Regions from separate parts of the Homo sapiens genome. Here region 2 is linked to region 1. The links come from fine-mapping of genetic effects on gene expression. Tissue or cell type: testis. Region 1 holds a variant in brackets; the other region holds the start of a gene. All regions are shown on one strand. Distances are from middle to middle.

The links.
Region 2: PLCB4 starts here. The variant in region 1 is fine-mapped to the expression of PLCB4 in testis (GTEx, PIP 0.99).

What each region holds. Positions count from the first base shown.
Region 1 is chr20:8,974,650-8,980,036 of GRCh38, forward strand. No RefSeq gene overlaps it. Among named protein-coding and RNA genes, the nearest start is that of PLCB4, 92 kb to the right of the region's middle. The variant C/G (reference allele first, on the strand shown) is at 2,964.
Region 2 is chr20:9,067,055-9,072,441 of GRCh38, forward strand. PLCB4 (phospholipase C beta 4) reads left to right here and starts at 2,033. Exons shown (of 40, transcript NM_001377142.1): 1 at 2,033-2,152.

The sequences.
Region 1 (5,387 bases):
CTTTAGATAATAACTTAATTCTTTCAACTAATGAATTGCCAATCAGAACTCCCCTCCCTTCAAGTTGTCTCCCTCCTTCAAGTCGTCCCACCTTTCTGGACCAATGTATACCTCACATGTATCTATTGATACCTTATGTCTCCCTAAAGCATATAAAACCAAGCTGTAACCCAAACATGTTGGGCACATTTTCTCAGGACCTCATGAGACTGTGCCTTGGGCCACAGTTATCATATTTGGCTCAGATTGAGAGTTTGGCTTTTTTCATTGACACTATGACCACACTATAGAAGGGAGACATTCTTGCTTTGGGTTAAAGAGATGCTTCCAAATGGGACATCTCAGGTAACCTTGGAGGGTTTGCAGTGAGCATGGGCCACTGTGGCCCCACAATGACAGCTGCCTCCCAGGGGAGGAGTGGAGTGTTTCCATTACACTTGAGTGCATCAGTCCACAAACACTTTTGATTTTAGAGAAATTCGATTTTTTTGTAACATGCAGTCATATTAAACACATATGAGGAATTTTCATCTTGCCTCAGAATCCATGGTAGAACTGGTATCTGAACTTAAAGCCAGACCAATTTAATGGCTCTGGGTATTATGGCTAAAAAACAAACAAAAACAACAACAAAAACCAAATACCAACAGCAGCAACAACAAATGCTTTTAATTGTACAAAGAGAAGAACACATCTGAGTGTTTTTAAGTAAGTCACAGACACTATATCTTTCCACCTATAATCATTTAAACATGTATCTGTAACACATTATTTTTAAAACATAACCAAAATAATAGTTTTATACCAAAAAGAACTCACAACAATTCTTAGTACCAGTAACAATATTTAGTACCAGTTCATGTTCAACTTCCCCAGTTTTCTCAAATTATTTTCTTTTTACAGTTGGTTCACAAGTTATAAGTCATGTATTATATAATGGTCCCTATCTTTTTTTTTTTTTTTTAGACAGTTTCGCTCCATTGCCCAGGCCGGAGTGCAGTGATGCCATCTCAGCTCACTGCAAATTCTGCCTCCCAGGCTCAAGCAATTTTCATGCCTCAGCCTCCCAAGTAGCTGGGATTACAGACATGCACCACCACACCCAGCTAATTTTTGCATTTTTAGTAGAGACGGGGTTTCACCATGTTGGCCAGGCTGGTCTCGAACTCCTGGCCTCATGCAATCTGCCCACCTTGGCCTCCCAAAATGCTGGATTACAGGCATGAGCCACCACGCCCAGCCCCTATCCATTTTTAAACGCCATTTATGTGTTGAAGAAATAACACATAAATTTGCCCTGTAGTATTTCCCTAATTCTGGATATGGCTGATGATTTCCTTGTCATATGTTGTGACATACTTCTCTATTTCTGTATTTCTCATAAATGGTTAGTTAGATATTATGTGATTTTAAGTTAATATCAGGCAACACAATGTTCTTGTACTTAGGGGCTACTATGAACTGAAAGTTTGTATCCCCACTAATCCCCATCAAATTAATACGTTGAAATCTTAACCCCCAATGTGGTGATATTAGATGGTGGGGCCTTTGGGAGGTGTTTGGGTCATGAGGACCCAGCCCTCATGAATTGATTAGTGCCTATATAAAAGAGACACCAAAGAGTTGCCTCATCCTCTCTCTGCTACTTTAGGGACACAAAGAAAAGTCAGCAGTCCCAGAAGAGGGCTCCCACCAGAATCCTAACATGTTAGCACTCTGCTCTCAGACTTCCAATATCCAGAACCATGAGAAATAAATTTCTGTTGTTCATAAGCCACTCAGTTTCCAGAACCATGAGAAATAAATTTCTGTTGTTCATAAGCCACCCAGTAGGTGGTACTTTGTTATAGCAGCCCAAACTAAGACAAGACAGGGGCTGCCTGGGAAGGATGCAAGGAAATGAGCATGGCTTTGAGGCTCCACAGAACCCACTCTGCTCAGCTCTGTAATTAGGCTCCACCTGTCACTTGAAGTCAACCATGCCATGATTTCTCACTTTATGCTTCTATTCCTCATAGCAAGTGGTGAGTACGCAAGAGGTTACCATGAAGATTTGACATTTGCAAAGCACTGATCTAGCATACAGTTGGTACTGTATAAACGTTTATTTTTCTTTTCCTCTCTTAGTCTCACATTTCTTGATGGTTAACTGAAATGACTAGAGTGCATGGCCTAAAATTCCTCTCCAGCTAGGAAATGCCATGACCTTTGCTAGATTTTAGCATCAGGGACTGGGTCAGTCAAATTGGCATGGAAGAAAACCCACTGCTTACACTTTCTTTCCAATATAAGAGGCTTAAAAGTTATTTTGAATTATTTTTTCATTCTACAAATGTTCACTTGTCCCCAACTGTGTGCAGAGACATCCCCCTGGGGGCATACAAAGATAATTGAGACAGTTCTTCCACTCAGTCAGCTCACAGTTTGGGAGTCGGGGAGGAAATGAACATACAAGTTAAAGAAACTATGTTAGGCTGTGTGCAGAGGCTCATGCTTGTAATCCCAGCACTTTGGGAGGCCGAGGCAGGTGGACTGCTTGAGGTCAGGAGTTCGAGACCATCCTGGCCAACGTGGCGAAACCCTGTCTCTACTAAAAATACAAAAATTAGCCGGGCATGGTGGCACACATGCCTGTAATCCCAACTACTCTGGAGGCTGAGGCACAAGAATGGCTTAAACCCAGGAGGCAGAGGTTGTAGTGAGCCGAGATCGAGTCACTGCATTCCAGCCTAGGCGACAGAGTAAGACCCTGTCTCAAAAACAAACAAACAAACAAAAACAAACAAACAAAAACGCACCTCCCTCGGACCTCTAGTATAGCTTTTTTTTTTTTTTTTTGACAGAGTTTCACTCTGGTTGCCCAGGCTAGAGTTCAATGGCATGATCTCGTCACTGCAACCTCTGACTCCCAGGTTCAAGCTATCCTCCAGCCTCAGACTCCCACATAGCTGAGATTACAGGCA[C/G]GCACCACCACGCCTGGCTAATTTTGTATTTTTAGTAGATACAAGGTTTCACTATGTTGGTCAGGCTGGTCTCAAACTCATGACCTCAAATGATCCACCCACCTTGGCCTCCCAAAGTGCTGGGATTACAGGCATGAGCTACCGTGCCCGGTCGGGAGGTACGTTCTTTAGAAGAGCAATATAGAAAACAAAGACAACATCAACATTCAGCTTGTGTTTGAGTAACTCTTCTGTCAGTGGGGGTGGGTTTGGGCTAGTCATGAATTATTAGGAAATACTCAACAGATAGAAATAAGAGATTGGGACCAAAGGACACTGTGTTTGGGACGAGGCCGGCATACTCTCATTGCCAACCAGGGGAGTTCATGAGAATGCTGCCTCCAAGGCTAGCTTCATAGAAGACAGCATTGAAAAAGTTGGGAATGGACAGTTGGGACAGTTGGGATGGGTGCAATGTATGATGATTTGGAGAGTTAGTCAAAGTAAAAAGTTGAGAATACAATGTAAAAGAAAGGAAGAAATCTATCTCTAAAAGTTCTAAGCAAGCAGAGTAATGAATGTTTCATTTTACACAATTAGCATTTTCTAAGCTTCGCAAAGATAGCGGAGTCAGGATAACCAAGTTCAGTTACATAAAAAAGAAACATCTGACCTTGACAGGCAGTTTCCTATGTCAAGGTCTTACCATCAATTTTGTTTATAGATTATTGCTTTTCACACATTGTACAATAAACATACACCTATAAGCACATACAGTTTATACACACCCATACATATATACACATTTATATTAGGGATACTTAATGTTATATTACACATGATAATACTAATAGTGTGATAAACTATTAAGTATAGTAAAGCCATAAGTCTATGATATATAAGTACTATATAGCACATTTGTTAAAGAAGACTGGGGTCCTAAAATTTTTTAAAATTATGTTTTCTACAGTTCTTAAATCCTCTCAAGCACAGTATTCAAAACTATTATAGATAACTTGAGACAACATCCTGTGCATTTGCACAGAAGCATCATAATATAATTCTATCACTGACTTTCCCCGAATCAGAAAAGAAAAATCAGAATTTAAAAATGCCATGAAATAACAGGACAATCATCTTAGTGACAAATGGTGGACCTCCAAACAGCTGCCTGCCCTCCTTCCATATGAATACACTAAAGAACCCATCTGAAATTATTTCTTGGTATTAAGAAAATACAAGCAATGTTCAAATATCAAGAGCTTTTAAGAAAAAGAGAGAATTGCTTATTCCATGATCCATTTCAATGCTTGATACATTTTATTGACACATCATTTAAAAAGGTATAATTGGATGTGAGATAATTTTATCAGAATGCAATGGTATGTTTAACCAAGATCCCCCTGTGACAATCATCTAGTAAATAAGTAACGTGGATTCATCCATTGAGAAATACAACACCCTACACCTCAACCAATGGGTTGGTGCCCAAGTAGCTAACACAAAAATCAGATCACTCGTACTATGGCCCATTCAGAAAATTACCAAAATAACTACTACAACCCTCATGAACATGAAATGAGGACTTGAGTATACAGTTGCTAAAAGGGTCTGTGGCTTGTTGTAACTACGAATTTAAATATTTGGAAGCCCTCTGTAGTGACACCCTACATCCCCGAATCTCCTATATCAGGGGTCAAAAAAATTTCACATAAAGGGCAGATAGTAAATATTTTCAGCTTTGTGGGCCATTCAGTCTCAGTTGATCACAACTATTCAAGTCATAGAAAATATGTAAATGAATGTGCATGATTGTGTTCTAATAAACTTTATTTACAAAGCACAGGGCTGGCTGGATTTGGCCCATCGGCCATACTTGGTTAACCACTGCCTATATTTTCCTGACTAATTGAAATGAAATTTCTTCTTTAATATGCACTTTCACAAAAGAAGAATAAAAGGAAAAAAGAAGCAAAACTCAATAATGTAAATTTGATTCATTTGGGGCAAGTGGGTACCTTATTAATTATTTTTATATTATTTTATTGAGGGGATCATAGAAACATGATTTCAAGTGGACTCTAGTTTCTAGGAGTTAGCCACATGCTGAAATTGGGATTAAATGTAACATTCATTAATCTTGAGTTTGGTGGGAAGTATTTCCTTCTATTCTTTTTTTTTTTTTTACTTTAAGTTCTGGGATACATGTGCAGAATGTGCAGGTTTTTTACATAGGTGTACATGTGCCATGGTGGTTTGCTGCACCTATTAACCCTTCATCTAGGTTTTAAGCCCCACATGCATTAGGTATTTGCACTAATGCTTTCCCTCCCCTTGCCCCCAACCCCCGACAGGCCCTGGTGTGTGATGTTCCCCTCCCTGTGTTCATGAGTTCTCATTATTCAACTCCCACTTATGAGTGAGAACATTTGGTGTTTGGTTTTC
Region 2 (5,387 bases), 92 kb after region 1:
CTCCGCCTCCCGTGTTCGAGAGATTCTCCTGCCTCAGCCTCCTGAATAGCTGGGATTACAAGTGCCCACCACCACGACCGGCTAATTTTTTTTTTTTTTTGTATTTTTAGTAGAGATGAGGTTTCACCATGTTGGCCAAGCTGGTCTCGAACGCCTGACCTCAGATGATCCACCCGCCTTGGCCTCCCAAAGTGCTGGGATTACAGGCGTGAGCCACCGCGCCCAGCCAAAATCACCACATCTTTAATATCCCTAACAGTGAAGAGCCACCAGCCTTTCCCTGGGATCTATCTTTCCTTTCCAATCTTGTGGGGAAACTTGGTCTGGGATATTTTTCTTGGCTTCTTCACAGGCAGACAGCTTCAGCTGCTGAGGAGCTTTTTTTCCAGGCTCAGCTAAAATTACAGCTTAGTAGTTGAGCTGGGGAGTGGTCAGTGGGGCCTCAGCCCCCTCTTGCTTAAGGATGCCCAGTTGGTTAAACTTTTGATGATTATTACCCCCATCTCTTAGCCCTGCCTGGAAATGGCCAGGATGTGCCAGGGGAATGAGTCTTTTGCATCTACAACTGCCCCTGCCCATCAGAGCCTGGACTATTGTTTGCACACACATTCCCCCTCCATTTCTTACACTTCACGCCCCGTCTGGCCCTTTCTTTCCTCCTGGCCAGCCGGACCGGCTCAGGCGGCTGAGCATGCCTAGTGCAGCTGCGAGCATGGCCCCAGTCCCCAATGCGCAGGTGCCACGTCTCCGGGTTTTGGTGGCCGCCGGCCGGGAGAAGGAGGAGGCGGAGTGGGGAGGAGGGAGCCCTCCGGAGTTCGGGAGCAGCACGTTGTGAGGGTCCACACAAGGGTGATGCCAGACCGAACACCATTAGGGCCTGGGTGTGAGTGTGACTCGGAGGCACCTGGGGGCCGTTGTAGGGCCGGGAAAAGCCAGGAACTGGCTGGAGCAGCACCCCAGCATCCCAGGGACCAAAGTCTGGGGGATTTGCATGTCTGAGGTTGCACTTGTGGGAAGACTTTTTGGAACCACTTAATCTCTGTGGCTCTGTGTAAGACCCGCGAAATAAAAAGAGGCAGTAGTACTCTTTGGAAGATTGTTTTAGGGATTAAATGAATAAAAAGCGTTTAGAACACTGCAGGACGCATTGTAGGCGCTGTATGGGTTTATGAAACCGAATATAAACAAATAAGCACGTCCCCCACCCAGCCAACGGCTTTGGGGGCCCCGTTCTGGCCAGTCCTGAGCCCCTCCACACGGCCCACGGCGGGCTGCGGGTCTCCCATCCGAGGAGGGTGCCGCTTTTCTGCCCCCGCTCCCTGGGTTCTGCGCCCAGCGCCATCCCGTGCGCCCCCGACCCTTGGGCATGGGGCACATGCCGCGGGGAGCCGCCAGGGAGACCCCAGAGGAGCGCGCCGCGGGCCGGCTTCCCCGGATGCCCCACCCACCTCCTCTTGGCGCTGCCCACCACCTGCCTCGGCTGCTCGGCCCCCGGCTCGCGAGGCTGCGCCCCCGACCCAGTCGGCGCCCACTCCTCGCCCTGCGGGCTCGCGGCAACTGGGCGGCCGGCCCGGCCCCTGCCCACCCCCAGCCCAGCCCGGCGCGCCGCACTGGGCATGCTCCGTAGCCTGGGCAGGTTGGGGCTGCGAGGCGACAGCTCGGGCTCTGGAGCCGGGAGGCGAGAACGAGGAGGGAGGCTCGGGGGCAGGGGAGGAGGAAGCGGCTGGCCGCTGAGGGGCGGCGGGGCCCGGAGCGGGGGACGCGCAGGGCCCGGCGGTGGGCGGGCGGGTCGGCGCTGCCCCGTGGGCTCGCTGGGGAGCCACGGCGGAGACCCCCGCCCTCAACTGAGGTAAGGACCGCGCGGCGCGGAGACGGGGAGGCGGGGAGGCCAGGGAGGGGGTGCGGAGGCAGGCGGGAGGGCGGGACTGGGGTGCGCCGGGAGGGGGCTTGGCGGCGGCTCTTTATGGCGAGGAGGGGGTGGTGGCGCCGCGCCGGGAGCAGTAAGTGAGCTGCACCGCCAACAAGATCTCTCACACACAGACACACACACGCACACGCACACACGGGCGCGCACACACACGCGCGTACACACTGGGTCTCCAGGCAGCGGCCGTCGCCGCATCCCCGGCAGCAGCTCCAGGCAAAGTGACAGGTAGGAAAAGGCATTTCGGGTCCCGCCCGAGGATGCTCCCGCCCGCCTTGGCCCTCAGGGCTTGTTTGCTTTCCGCGGGTGCGTCCCGGACGCGCGCGCGCGCGCACCCGGATGCCCAGCGGGGACCCCGTGCAGGTGCCGGGTGCCAGGCGCCCTGTGCGCGCGGGAGGCAGGGGACCCAGACGCCATCCCCCTTCCCCTGCAGTCATCGCCTGCTGGGTTTCCTCAGACTCTCTCCAGACGTTCACCCTCTTCTGGGCTAGAAATAGCTCGGCTCGACGTGTATATGATTATTTTGGTTGGAAATAGTTGGCACCGTGCAACGCATGTAAATGTGTATGCGTGTGGATCTTCTTGCCTCTTCTGGGGAAATCATAGAAATGATTGACCGTTTCCACTTAAAACAACACTGACAGGCTTAGCACTCATTGGGGGCAGGGTTCGGGCCTCCTAAAAGCCTGTTAGTGAAGGAAATCCTTATTTTCAGAATTTTAAAGTTGCTTTTGCTTTAACCAATTAGACTCTGTATAGTACAATACTTCTGAGTGTAGACTTCGTATATGGTACTGAATCGAAGTATGGAAATATGGAATTCTCTAATTTCCAAGTGTGTTTAAGTGCAACTTTATCTAGAATCATAAAACTAGCATTTTCCTAGAGAGAAATACAACTGCCCACTATAGTTTCCATAAATATGGATATATCTGAAAGATGACCCTACTCTTCCAACTTTTTTTCCTCTTAACTTCTGTAGTGATTCTAGCTATTGTTCTAAAACATGTATTTGAAATTTAATTTTGGCCAGAATATTCAGGAAAGGTGTTTTTTTTTCCATATACGTAATACTTAGTGGTCTATATATTTAAGTTATAGGTATGTGGAGATAGCTGTTTAATAATTCTTTTTGTCTGGAAATAACGTTATTCAAACATAGGCAGCTATGTATCATTTTAAAATGATATTGAATTTCCCCTTAAAGAGAAATCAGATTTATAATGTAAACATGACCAGGAAAAGCAACTGGTGACTTTACCTGGGGAGGCTCCAAGGAGGTTAAGAAAGTATCTGAACAACTGTGTTTTTCAGAATAGAAAAATTGTGTGTGTGTTGCGGGGGAAGGTAAAATTTTAACTTTATTCTTTTATTGTTTTCAAGACGGCTGTTTTCAGAAATGTGTGGTTGAACTGAGACCCTCATATTTTATACTCTTCAAATTTGAGTGGCCTCAGTTATAGAATCATACAGAAGATCAAAAGTCTAGCTCAGCAGGGGCATGTGGTGTAATCCCTCACTATCTGTGTTATGTAATCCAGAATGCTGTTTTTCATAGGACAGTCTTGCATGATCCTTAGCTGGTGTATTGATCTATTATATCATCTTCCTTTTGAACTGTAGTAGTTTAATAAATGATTGCCATCTTTGGAGAGCACCTGTTTTCATAAAAAATCACTTTTTGAAATGGCAAAACATTTTTATTGGCACTTTTATGAACGTAAGACTTGCTGCCAGACGAGTAACCTTTTGAATGTGACGTATTATAACATATCTAAAGGTACCATGTATTAGCTTATGGACTACACTTCCTTCCAACTATATTATTACTCAACAGTTGGAACTTAGTTTTGATGGTATTACTACCCAGCTCTGAATTAATCGCTGTTGAAAATGCTGTTCTACAAGTAACTGTCAAAACAGAATTTCTAACTCCATTTGATCACTGGGTGCACATTTAAATCTGTCGGAATAACTCTACCTTTATTTTGCAAATGCATACCCACGCAGAAAGCTTTGTTCTAAAATACTCTATTGGAAGTTTTATATTTATATGCCTGAAAATGTGAGTGATGTTAAACTGCTTACATGTCCTGGAATCGTGAGGCGGTGTGTTTTTGCCTTATGAGATAAAGAAATATGGTAGTTGAAAAAGTGTTACAGGTTACCAAAAACCTTTTGCAGGAAAAGATTTTAAAAATTTGTATCACCTCTGAAATATTTCAACCACAGCAGAGTCCATTCAGTGCCCGTAGCACAGCTAGTTTGCCTTTCCCAAGATTACACACAACTGTCTTTAGATTAATGTATACTGCTGACTTTGGCAACATGGGACAGTTATATTTGGCAATTTCAGTAAACATGGTATTTTCCTAAGATACCACTAACTTCATTTTGGGGTTTGATTTATTAAGAATTGAAATGTTTGCCTGGTATTCATCTTTACCTCACCCTCTAAGTAAAATTGAGGTAAAAGTGAGCTTCAGGGCTGCTGTGCTGTTTTCCTTGTGATCACATTAGCATGCTAATTTGTGAAAGGATGTAACAATATAAGTGAAATTAGCTTCTGAGTTTAGTGTCTGAATTTTCATCCCCAGTTTTTCAGATGTAGCTGGAAAACTCAAATAACAGAATTAATGAAAAAATTTTGCAGATTATTAAAAAAAATTAGTAATTAGCTGAGTTTGATTTTTTATTTTGAAATCTTGAGAGTAAATTTTATCTTTTCGGATTAGAGCACTTAGGTAATGTAAGAAAGATTTTGGATTTCTCATGCTCTCCACACTTAATAGTAAACTATTTTTGAGGAAGTATAAATTTTCTTTGAAACTTAAAATTATTTAGCAGGCTGTGACTAAATTTTTGTTTGTGATCACTTATAAAGTAAGGGTGAAACAGCATGTTGATTAGCACCGCCGACCCAGGTCTTTTAATAAACTGTCTATCTACCACAGTTGAGTCCCTGTAAAACCAAGAACTTCTGTATTTGATATGCAAAATTAGGTCAAGGACTAATGGAGATGCTTTAATGATCACAGTTGGTATTTTATGTCCAGATTGAAGTTTTTAAAATAGTTGCTTTTCACCTCATAATATATGAATGTGTAGGCCATATTAGTGTCTGTCAAGGAGACTTATCTGCCTGTTGGGAAATAAATACAGCTTTTCATCGCTGGTGGGAGGCAGCAGTGACTTTCTGTGGTTTTGCTGTTGGTTTTCAGATGTGAACTGTGTTTGCAAGGACACTGCTTAATTCTCAGTGCTGTCCATTCCACATTTTCCTATTTCCCTCTCATATTGGGAAAATGAATAAACTTGTGTAGCTCTTTCTTCTATTCCTTAGTATTTGTTTGTTTAATAGTTTTGCTTTTGATAAAGCCTCACCCTTTAAAGTAGAAATACTTTCTCAAATTGTAATATTATTTATCTAGTTATGCCTTAGAATGATATAAAGGTTTTACAT